Linked DNA regions of Homo sapiens: regions 1, 2 and 3 are each linked to region 4. Evidence: fine-mapped expression QTL. A gene starts in region 4. Each other region holds a variant in brackets. All regions are shown on one strand. Distances are from middle to middle.

The links.
Region 1: its variant is fine-mapped to the expression of GNPAT in lung (TOPMed, PIP above 0.99).
Region 2: its variant is fine-mapped to the expression of GNPAT in whole blood (INTERVAL, PIP above 0.99).
Region 3: its variant is fine-mapped to the expression of GNPAT in blood mononuclear cells (TOPMed, PIP above 0.99). The same link has a PIP of 0.9 or more in lung and whole blood.

Annotation. Positions count from the first base shown.
Region 1 is chr1:231,264,104-231,266,788 of GRCh38, reverse strand. GNPAT (glyceronephosphate O-acyltransferase) reads right to left here. Exons shown (of 16, transcript NM_014236.4): 5 at 1,369-1,496; 6 at 1,002-1,077; 7 at 624-775; 8 at 382-512. Among named protein-coding and RNA genes, the nearest start is that of GNPAT, 24 kb to the right of the region's middle. The variant A/G (reference allele first, on the strand shown) is at 1,331.
Region 2 is chr1:231,270,817-231,273,481 of GRCh38, reverse strand. It overlaps GNPAT (glyceronephosphate O-acyltransferase), which reads right to left. Exons shown (of 16, transcript NM_014236.4): 10 at 2,482-2,665; 11 at 1,091-1,170. Among named protein-coding and RNA genes, the nearest start is that of GNPAT, 31 kb to the right of the region's middle. The variant T/C (reference allele first, on the strand shown) is at 1,137.
Region 3 is chr1:231,278,165-231,280,849 of GRCh38, reverse strand. No RefSeq gene overlaps it. Among named protein-coding and RNA genes, the nearest start is that of GNPAT, 38 kb to the right of the region's middle. The variant T/G (reference allele first, on the strand shown) is at 1,111.
Region 4 is chr1:231,239,739-231,242,423 of GRCh38, reverse strand. It overlaps GNPAT (glyceronephosphate O-acyltransferase), which reads right to left and starts at 1,212. Exons shown (of 16, transcript NM_014236.4): 1 at 968-1,212. The coding sequence starts at 1,045. FSAF1 (40S small subunit processome assembly factor 1) reads left to right here and starts at 1,249. Exons shown (of 7, transcript NM_152379.4): 1 at 1,249-1,400. The coding sequence starts at 1,283. RefSeq lists enhancers at 310-1,199, 1,180-1,519.

The DNA.
Region 1 (2,685 bases), 24 kb before region 4:
CATTATGCAATCCTTTCTAGGGTCAAAAATAATAGTACATACTTTGGCTAGCTTACCAATAGTGCTCAACAATTCCTGCACATATACTTGTTAATAATGGCATTATTTATTCCCACTTTAGTTCCCTTGAGAAACATGATCATTGTCTGATTTTGCATATTTGACATACATATCTCACAGCTTATCTTTTTTTGGGACAAACACATAATTCTTCTTTAATTGAAGGTTTCCACTGATGAAAACGGAATGATAACAGCATTTCTGATCATTTTCTCTGTAATCTTAAGTAAATCAAGAGAAGTGGTCAACTCCAGCATTGCAACTCACACCTTTGGATTTTAATCCTCATTTCTAAGACAGTTATTAAAACACAGGTCACACCTTGGAACCAAGTTATATGAGCTCCGACTCATCCTCCCAGCTGCCAAAGATCGAAGTGACACAGGATCTCCAAAGTACACATGGATGCTTCCAAAATTTTCAGAGAGAATCTTTCTGGCTTTCAGCAACCCCTAATAGTACCATAACAGGGGGGGAAGAAAACGAAAAGCAGTAAATTTAGAAATTAGTTGATGTGTCAGTCAGCACATTCTCTCAATTAAGCTAAAATCAAGCTCACGTACAGTTGTAGACTCTTTTGGTTTAGGAACCCCTAGAAGCTCATACACATAAAGAGTTTCTTCCAAGATCTTATCATAACTGATACTAATTGGGACAAGGTAGGTATCAAAAACTTCTCTTTTAAAAAATGGCTCCATCACAATATTCAGAAGACCTGCAAAACACAGGGAGAAATGCTTCATCAACATATTGAAGAGCAGAGCAAACATGAGCACATAAACGGAAAATACTAAAAGCATACATTATACACTAATCCCGTAAATATCAACAGTTATACATTTACACTTGAAAAGAATATCTTGTTAAATAAAGCGTCAAGTTTTATGTAGCAGCTGATGTCTTTGGGTTTGTATTTTTCCTTTTAATCTGTAGTGACCTACCAAATTTAGGAGTCAATGTCTTGGCAGAGCGGCTTCTTGTCCCTTCGAGGAAAAATTCAACAGGAGCATAACCATTCTTTAAAGAGAAAACAAACAAAACACAAAACCCATTGCCTACTCTCAAAATGATAAATGCTTCTTTTGATTCCTTTTCCCAAGCTCCCTCCCAAGCTTCCTGAACAAACACAGCTTACAGTGAAAATTAAACAAGAGAGTCACACAGATTAAACCAATTGCTGAGGTTATAAGCAGTTCTTGAGGGAAAGCAAAATAGCTAAGTGTTCTATTCAGAAGTTAAGAGTTTAAATGAGCAAACATCAGTGAAGAAA[A/G]TATGGCTTAAGAGTAGTTGGGAATTATTTGCATTTACCCGTAACATAGTTTTTACATATTCAGAGAATACAGCCCAGTAGAGTTTATTGCCACCAAAGGTACGCCGCATGAAAAAGGCACCCGACATTCGTAGCAGCTCACCAACCATTTTCATTCCCAGGAAGTCTAAAAAAGAGGGGATAATATTTATTTGCAGATCTTGAAATCTTCTATAAAGATCTAAACTTAAACATGCTTATTTTTCATTTATATTTTATTATTTTATTTTATGAGACAGGGTCTCGCTATGTTGGCTAGGTTGGTCACAAACTTCCTGGCCTCAAGCAGTCCTCCTGCCTCGGCCTCCCAAAGTACTGGGATTACAGGCATAAGCCACTGTGCCTGGCCTAAACTCAAACATTATTAAGAAAGATTTCATAAATGTAAGACACCCCTATGATATTATTATACTTTGACATTAAAATACATAAGAGATACCTAATAGAATTATAGAAAAGAAGGGATTCTGTGGGCCAGGTGCTCACTGGGAGGTTACCTTGTGCTTCTCCATGCACCACTCCCTTTACAAGTAGGCCAGCTAGAGCCAGGGGCAACAGCAGAGCAACATGACAATGTCATGATGTCAATGTCTTTAGTCAGCCATGCTGCTGAGCCTGACAACAGACCAATATGTGCCCTTCATGCTCTGGACAGCCAGGCCAAACCCGCTCTCATCTTTTGCCTACCAGGAAAAAACATCAACCTACTTTTGTTGGAAGAGATTAAATAAGGCAAATCTTGTAAGAAAGGAAGATTGCTACCAGCAGTTTTAAAATAGTCTTTCTCTTCATTTCCCCTAGTTTTCAAATAACTTCCTCACAAGTTTGTTCAGATGAAAATGCTTTTAAAGTGCTTAAGTTCTTGGCAGTTTTAACCTTACCATTCACTGCATTTATTAACAAACGTGTATACTTGAATCCTGGCTTTCCTGGCTACCCTAAAAGGGAGTGGATAAACAACTTATATGCCTTAGCAATCCCACTTTTAGGAATCGATCTTACAGGAATAAAAGCACCAATATAAAAATGTATTATGACATTGTTTATAACAGCAAAACTACTAAATTATGAAATATCCACACTGCTGAATATTATATGGCTATTAAAATTAATGTTAGACATGAAGTTGGACCCTTAACTTACACCATATACAAAAATTAACTCAAAAAACCAAAGATCTTAATGTAAGACCTGAAACCATAAAACTCTTAGGATAAAACATAAGGGAAAAGCTTCATGACCTCGGATTTGGCAATGATTTCTTCGATCTGATACCAAAAGCACAGGGAACCAGGGAACCAAAGAAACAAATAGAT
Region 2 (2,665 bases), 31 kb before region 4:
CAGGAGATCGAGACCATCCTGGCTAACACAGTGAAACCCCGTCTCTACTAAAAATATAAAAAATTAGCCGGGCGTAGTGGTGGGCGCCTGTAGTCCCTGCTACTTGGGAGGCTGAGGCAGGAGAATGGAGTGAACCCGGGAGGCAGAGCTTGCAGTGAGCTGAGATTGCGCCACTGCACTCTAGCCTGAGCGACAGAGCCAGACTCCACCTCAAAAAAAAAAAAAAAAAAAAAGTTTCCAACACTCCTGTTCCACTCCCTACAGAATCAAACCTCTTATCCTTAAAGCACACAAACACCTAACATGCCTCTCATCTACTGTCACTTCCCACTTCAACCCAGCAGCAGTCCAGCTCTGCGAGCCTGATGACCCCTCAGCTGTCTAGACCAGGCAGGACCAGCACTCACTACTCTCAAAGTAAAAGGCACTTGCCTGGGTGACTCATTCTAACAACTTGCTAACAGGAAAATGTGTGCTGATTTTGTTGTGTTTGGTTTCTTTTTTTTTGAGATGGAGTCTTCCTCTTGTCACCAGGCTGGAGTGCAGTGGCACAATCTTGGCTCACAGCAACCTCCACCTCCCGGGTTCAAGTGATTCTCCTGCCTCAGCCTCAGCCTCCTGAGTAGCTGGGACTACAGGCATGCGCCACCACGCCCAGCTAATTTTTGTATTTTTAGTACAGACGGGGTTTCACCATGTTGGCCAGGATGGTCTCGATCTCTTGACCTCGTGATCCGCCTGCCTCGGCCTCCCAAAGTGCTGGGATTACAGGCATGAGCCACTGCGCCCGGCTGTGTGCTGATTTTTAAACGTTTACTAAAATAAAGTTAGTTTAGTTGTAATGGCCACACTGATAGTTCAAAGAATGACTCTCCTCTCACCATATAATCCCTAAGTTATTAATTAAACTTGATCAAGAATCAAACTAGAGTCTGCTGAACTGTGAGCGCCCCAGTTTCTCTTGAAGTCTGCCCCACTTTGCCTTGAAGAAAGGGATGGCACACTGCCTGAGACACATCTGTGAATTCACCCCTAACATTTCTAGAACTCACACTGCAAACATACTTGCTCTTTGTTGTAAGCACTTTACCTTTAGTGTGTTTCCTGGAAGGAAGATGAACTCATCTGCAAAAACA[T/C]CACGTAGGAAGCGAAAGCAACTGTAGACATCCTCTGGAAATAAATGCATCATGTAAAATTACAACATTGCCCTTTAAACTTTAAGGGAGTACCAGGAAGTCCTTACTATCACAAAATGTATTTCAAAGGCATATTTTATTCATGTAACAGGGACAAGAATTAAGTCCCCTGAGGGAAGCTAAATTAAACCCAAATCTTACCCACAGAGCAAACTACGGTCTAGCATAGTTTGTTTTTTGTTTTTTGAGATGGAGTCTCGCTCTGTCACCCAGGCTGGAGTGCAATGGTGCAATCTTGGCTCACTGCAACCTCCGCCTCCTGGGGTCAAGCGATTCTCCAGCCTCAGCCTCCCAAGTAGCTGGGATTACAGGCACTCGCCGCCATGCCCAGCTAATTTTTGTATTTTAATAGAGACAGGGTTTCACCATGTTGGTCAGGCTGGACTCGAACTCCTGACATCGTGATCCTCCTACCACGGCCTACCAAAGTGCTGGGATTACAGGCGTGAGCCACTGCGCCCGGCCCTAGCATAGTTTTTAAATGATTGACTCTAACCTACAACCAGGCTTCTACTCAGCGAGACATCACAGTCCTTAGAGGCCAGGACGCTTCATTTTTCCCTACCCCATGGCTCCCTAGTAGGGAAGGAAAGGTACTGATTTCTTAATTTCCCTCTATATTCATATTTCCTGGTATCTTTATTATATCTGTAGCACTTTTCCTTAGAATCACTGTGGAGCTTTGAAAAGCCAAAACCAAAACCAAAACCAAACACCAATGGCTGGCCCATACCCCAGGTCAACTGAAGAAACTTTGGGGTGGGGCTCACTCCCCTAGTAATTCTAACATAGGGCCTTGACAGAACCCCCTGGCCTTGACTACAGGCTCCTGTGAACATGACGTGTACTGTACTCATTTTTATACTCCTGATACAATTAGAACAAGACCATGCATCTCGGGAGTACTCATCGACTGCTGACTGCTCATCTGCCCACCTGCCTTTGCTGGATCAGGGAGCTGGCACAGCCAAAACAGTGCCGCAGACCAGGAAGTGGAGAACTGTACTCAAATGCCAGATCCTTCTCTCAGTAATTATGCAACTTTCTAGGCCTCATTTTCCATATTTATAGAAGGAAAGGTTTAGATTATTTCCAGGTCCTCCCAATTCCAAAATTCGAAGCAGATGAACAAGTATTTGGGGAACAAAGCTAACTTTTTCTCAGTGATAGGCCTGCTCTTCACCGGCGTGAGGCTGAACATTACAAGGCTTCAAATGTGGCTCCCTAAATGGAATGGAATGGCCAGACCTCTTCTAAAAGTCAAGATTGCATTCCTGAAAATTACCTTTCCTGAACCCTGGTGTCATCTGCAATGCTACTGCTACTAAGGATGGGCGCACAAAAATGTTGAGCAGCTGGTTCCTATAAGCTGAGCACATGAGGAGAGTGATGTGCTGGAGCATAAGCCCATCGACCACTTCCGAGTCTCCGGAGTCCACTTTCAGAATCACCTGGTCTTTGACAAGGCT
Region 3 (2,685 bases), 38 kb before region 4:
GAGCTGGGTTTCAAACCCAGTCAGTCTCCAGATACTGCTTTCTTGGCTACTACATTATACTGTGTTTGATGGGGAGATGGTCTTGAAAAACCAGATGCTGCAAGCTTTTTTTTTTTTTTTTTTTTTTTGAGACGGAGTCTCACTCTGTCACCCAGGCTGGAGGGCAGTGGTGCGATCTCGGCTCACTGCAACCTTCACCTCCTGGGTTCAAGCGATTCTCCTGCCTCAGCCATCTGAGTAGTTGGGATTATAGGCGCCCACCACCACGCCAGGCTAATTTTTTGTATTTTATCTTGACTCATTGCAACCTCCACCTCCTGGGTTCAAGCAATTCTTCTGCCTCAGCCTTCTGAGTAGCTGGGATTACAAGCACCTACCACTATGCCAGGCTAATTTTTTCTATTTTTAGTAGAGACAGGGTTTCCCCACGTTGGCCAGGCTGGTCTCGAACTCCTGACATCAAGTGATCTGCCTGTCTCAGCCTCCCAAAGTGCTGGGATTACAGGCATGAGCCACCATAACCGGCCTGCAGGCTTTCTTTCTACTTACTTCAAAGCAGTGGCAGCTCCAGAATTTATAGGCAGTAGGTAGTGAAGGGGCATAAGCCATGTTTTTTTTTTTTCAGACAGGGTCTCACTCATCATCCAAGCTGGAGTACAGTGGTGCAGTTACAGCTCACTGCAGCCTTGACTTCTCAGGCTCAAGTGATCCTCTCATTTCAGCCTCCTGAGTAGCTGGGACTACAGGTGTGTCCCACTACATCCAGCTAATTTTTGTATTTTTTGTAGAGATGGGGTCCACTATGTTGCCCAGGCTGGTCTTGAACTCCTGGGCTCAAGTGGTCCTCTCGCCTTGGCCTCCCAAAGTGCTGGGATTACAGGCCCGAGCCTCTGCATCCAGCTAGCAATGTGGTTGAAAGGTATGGGTGTGTGTAGCAGCAGGTCTGGGGTTGGGGACAGAGTACATACTTTGAAGGTTGGTAGCACAGTAAGCATGTTATTCTTTCACAATAATTTTAGGTTTATTTAAAGTGTCGAGAGAGGGTGGTTAATGACGAAATTGAGAAGTGATAAGCTCTGCTCCCATGCCTGGAGCTTCTTTTTTTTTCTT[T/G]TTTTTTTTTTTAGACGGAGTCTCGCTCTGTCACCAGGCAGTGGCGCTATCTTGGCTCACTGTAACCTCTGTCTCCCGGGTTCAAGTAATTGTCCTGCCTCAGCCTCACAAGTAGCTGGGACTACAGGCGCGTGTCACCACGCCCAGCTAATCTTTTGTATTTTTAGTAGAGATGGGGTTTCACCATGTTGGCCAGGCTGGTCTTGATATCTTGACCTCATGATCCGCTGGCCTCAGCCTCCCAAAGTGCTGGGATCACAGGTGTGAGCCACCATGCCCAGCCACCTAGAGCTGCTTCTGCTGCAGAGCCTCATTTGGTTTTCACTGCACCCCATTTTCCTTTCACCTCCACATTGTCTGCTTGCTTGACTAATGACAGAGCTGGCCAGGAGACAAGTCTAGCCACTTGCACCCAAAACTCCAAAGTCTTTGTCTAAACTTGGCATGTGTTACAAACAGACCTACAAGGAAATAAAGGTCATCTGACTCATTCTTCAACATGTACATGCACAGCATGAGTGTCAGGGTAAAGAAAAACAAGTAACGAATTGGGTGTATGGGGATTCTTTCTAAGGCATGTCTACATTGCAAGAATTGGCCAGGGTCCTGTTCTCCCAATTGCCCTGGACTCACAGCTTTTCTCTCCCTGGAGAACAGCAGCTCAGGTCCCCTATTCAACAGGCATACAGGAGAGTCCTCAGCCAGGAACACTGTTCAACTGACTCTTCAACTCGCTCTTGGTCAATCTCAACAGACTCCTCCCTGGCTTCCCAAAGAAATCGAGAACCAGCCCCAAGCAGAGCCACAGAGAGGGCCTCCTGGTCACCAATGCATGGAGAAGATGGCTCTCCGATCTCAATGTGCAGCAGAAACAGCCTGGTCCTGGGGAACACACACACACATTGCAGGACCCCTGAATGCAGGTAATCCCAGAATCCCGCCTTAAGAGACTTTTGAGGCCGGGCGCAGTGGCTTATGCCTGTAATCCCAACATGAATCAAATTCATATGTTGAAACCTTTAACCCAATGTGCCTATATTTGGAGAGGAGTCTTTGAGGTGATTAATGTTAGATGAAGTCACGACGGGGGCCTCATGATGGGATCAGTGTCCTTAAAAGAAGAGGCATCAGAGAACTTGCTTCTTCTCCGAGTACACCCAGAGGTCATTCTGAGCACACGGTAAGATGGCAGCCACCTACAAGCCCAGAAAGGGGCCTCAAAATGAACCTACTATGCAAGTACCTTGATCTGGGACTTTCAGTCTCCACAAATGTGAGAAAATAGGTCTGTGTTTAAGCTGCCTAAGCTGTGTTTAAGCTGTTGTGTTATGGCACCCTGAAACTGACTAATGCGCCTGCCTCTGTCTTCAATTTCACTATCTGTGACTCTTGTTCCAGCCATGTTGATCTTTTGGGAGCTCTGGAACCTGCCCCAGGACGTCCTGATCACTATTTTCTCCTGGCACACTGCACTCCACTGTCCCTTCCTCCGTCACTCCAACCCTGCCACTCTAGGGGCTGGCTCCTGCTCAATCCAGTTCTCAGCTTACATGTCACTTCCAGAGGTGGCTACTT
Region 4 (2,685 bases):
ATTCTCTTTCAAAACTGGGGTGTTTATCTTGCTCTGCTGTGTTATCCCTGTTTTGACCTTTCTGCACAAATGAACACTACATTTAAGCCAAAATTGGACAGTAATCACCAGGATATGCTAATATGCTTTTAAAATGAATTCTTTCATTTTCTCCTAAAGTAGCTAAAAACTAATTTAGTGGTTAAAAACAACAAGAAACAAACAAAAACCAAACCAGTTGCCCCAGGTCTGTGCAATCCTGAAGGCTATAAAGCTCCCATCTCATAATTTCTTCATGAAAATCGTGGGTGACCAACATCTGCCAGCCAAAAAGACCCGTTAAAACCAAGAGAGGAAGAGGGGGTTGGAGGAAAAAAAGACAAGCGGGAGAGAAGCTGGGTGGCGCTGGCTGTCCTCCAAAATGATTTGTGGAAAAGGTACAATAATGACTGGAAGACAAGAACAGGCAATAAAAATGTCTAGAAGTTCTAAATTTTCCTGAAGTGTTTAAAACTCTATTCCCACATACAAGCCAAGTGCTCTACTCCCAGGAATATAACAGCAGCATAGGGCGGGGTGCGGAGCCACAGGCTATCTCAGGGCGGGTCAAACCCGCAAGTTTCTCAGGTTTGCCCAAAAGGTAGCTCGACATGCCCTCGCTAGAGATGGGGAGACTCCAATTCTCATTCCTCATTCTCGTGTCCAGGAGCTTTCTGAAGGCCCCAGGGCCTGATAGAAAGAAAGAGAAGGAAAAAGTGGAAAGGAACCAAAGGAACCATAATCCGTAGAAACTTCCAAAAGCATGCACACACAGACACACAGCGATACACTGTTGTCCTGGAAACCAATCCAACCAACTAACCCCTCCTCGGGAGCCTAGGGGCCAGCTCTTTTGGGCAAGGGTGGTGGGCCGGAGGAATAGGGACTGGGAGAAAGGGGTACTATTTCGCGCGGCTCCGCTCTGGGCCTCTTTTCCCTGGGCGCCTACCGAGTAGAGGAGCACGACAGCGCTGGGACTGGTTGGGCCAACGGAGAAATAAGAGTTAGATGAACTGGAAGACTCCATGGTGCGGCTGCCTTCCCGGGCGGGGTCTGGGATTCTTTGCTAAGCCGTGGTGGTGCTCCTGCTGGGGGCGGTTCTTTCGCTCAGGACGGCCCTACTTCGCCTAGGGCGGCGGCACCCTCTGCAGCCGCTACACAGGATCCCGGGCGCCGCCATCTCAGCCAGGACGGAAGCCGCGCAGGGCCCTGCAGCGCATGCGCGCAGTCGCGGAACCCGGAAGCGGGGGTGCAGCGCGGCAGAATGAGGGTTGATTCCTCGGCTGACCCCACAATGTCGCAGGAGCAAGGGCCGGGGTCCTCCACGCCTCCCAGTTCTCCGACACTTCTTGACGCTCTGCTCCAGAACCTTTACGACTTTGGTGAGTGCGGGGTCCCAGGAGCCCACGTGGAGAACAGATTTGAGGAACGTGGGTCTCCTGTGTTGCCCGTCCTGGGTTGGCCTCTGCTTTGAGGCTAAAGGTTCTTGCATGTCAAGCACCCTTCGTCCCACCTGGTTCCAGTAGCGAACACATTTCTCCATCGGAAGTCACCCCTCGACCGGGCTCTGCTGAGTTATTCATCAAACCTTCCAACTCGTCCCCAAGTGTGGGGACCATCCTACTTGCTTGTAGGAAGCACCAAGGCTTTCCGATTTAAAAGTAGCCCGCTTTTCCACGTTTTCTTGAGCCCTGGGAAGTCCCCTTTCCCCATGCCACCCCCAAGACCTGCCTGACCCTGGTGCGATGGTGTCATTTCGCTCTGGGGCCTCGGGCCTGTTGGATAATACACCAGCTTCATCCTTGTGTGTCCCTCTCCAGAGACATCATAGTCCTTGGCGAGTTGTCCTTTTCACGACTTTTTTTTTTTTAAACAAGTGCGCTGATCTTTTACTCTCCGTTCTTTGTCTTGATGGGGGAAAAGGAAAATAAAAGAGCCTATTAAAGTCGCATGGCATGTCAGTAGGAAGACAGTGCCTCATACTCTGAAGAGCTTTCCCGGGAGAAGGTGACACCCTTTGCACATGCACCAAAGAAAATCATTAGATTTCAGGACAACACACATTTCTTAAATTTACAGCGTGATATTTTAAAAGCTATTTTTATTTTGGAATGACTGCTCAAAATTCTAAGTTCACCTAAACAGTAGGAATAATAGTTAAAACTGTTGAGAACTTGCCATATAGCACATGCTTTTCGTGTATTTGCTCATTTAATTTTCAACTTCATGAAATAGACACTGTCATAAATCCATGATTGCAGATGTAGAAACAAGTACTAGAAGTTCATGAAACCTGATGCAGGTTGTCTGACTGGTAATTTTTGCAGAGCCTGGGTTCTGATTCTAGCCCCAGACCCCATGCTTGTATTAACTAGCATTTCTGTGCCCTTGGACATATTGGAGGACAGAGAAGACTTAGTCTCTGACCTTGAGAAGTTTAAAATCTAGAGGAAAAGACTATTCTGCAAAATAATATAGTTCATGTCAACACAGGCTGGAAATCATGGTAGGAGCTCTGAAGGCATTGAATGTGTCTATTCATTTTTATATCCTTAATGCCAAAGTTTAGTTGGCTCTTAAATGTTTATTGTATAAAAGATTAAGCAAATAGTAGCAAGCATAAATCAGCAGCTGGTAATTTAGAGAGCTCTGTGGTATTTGTAATAC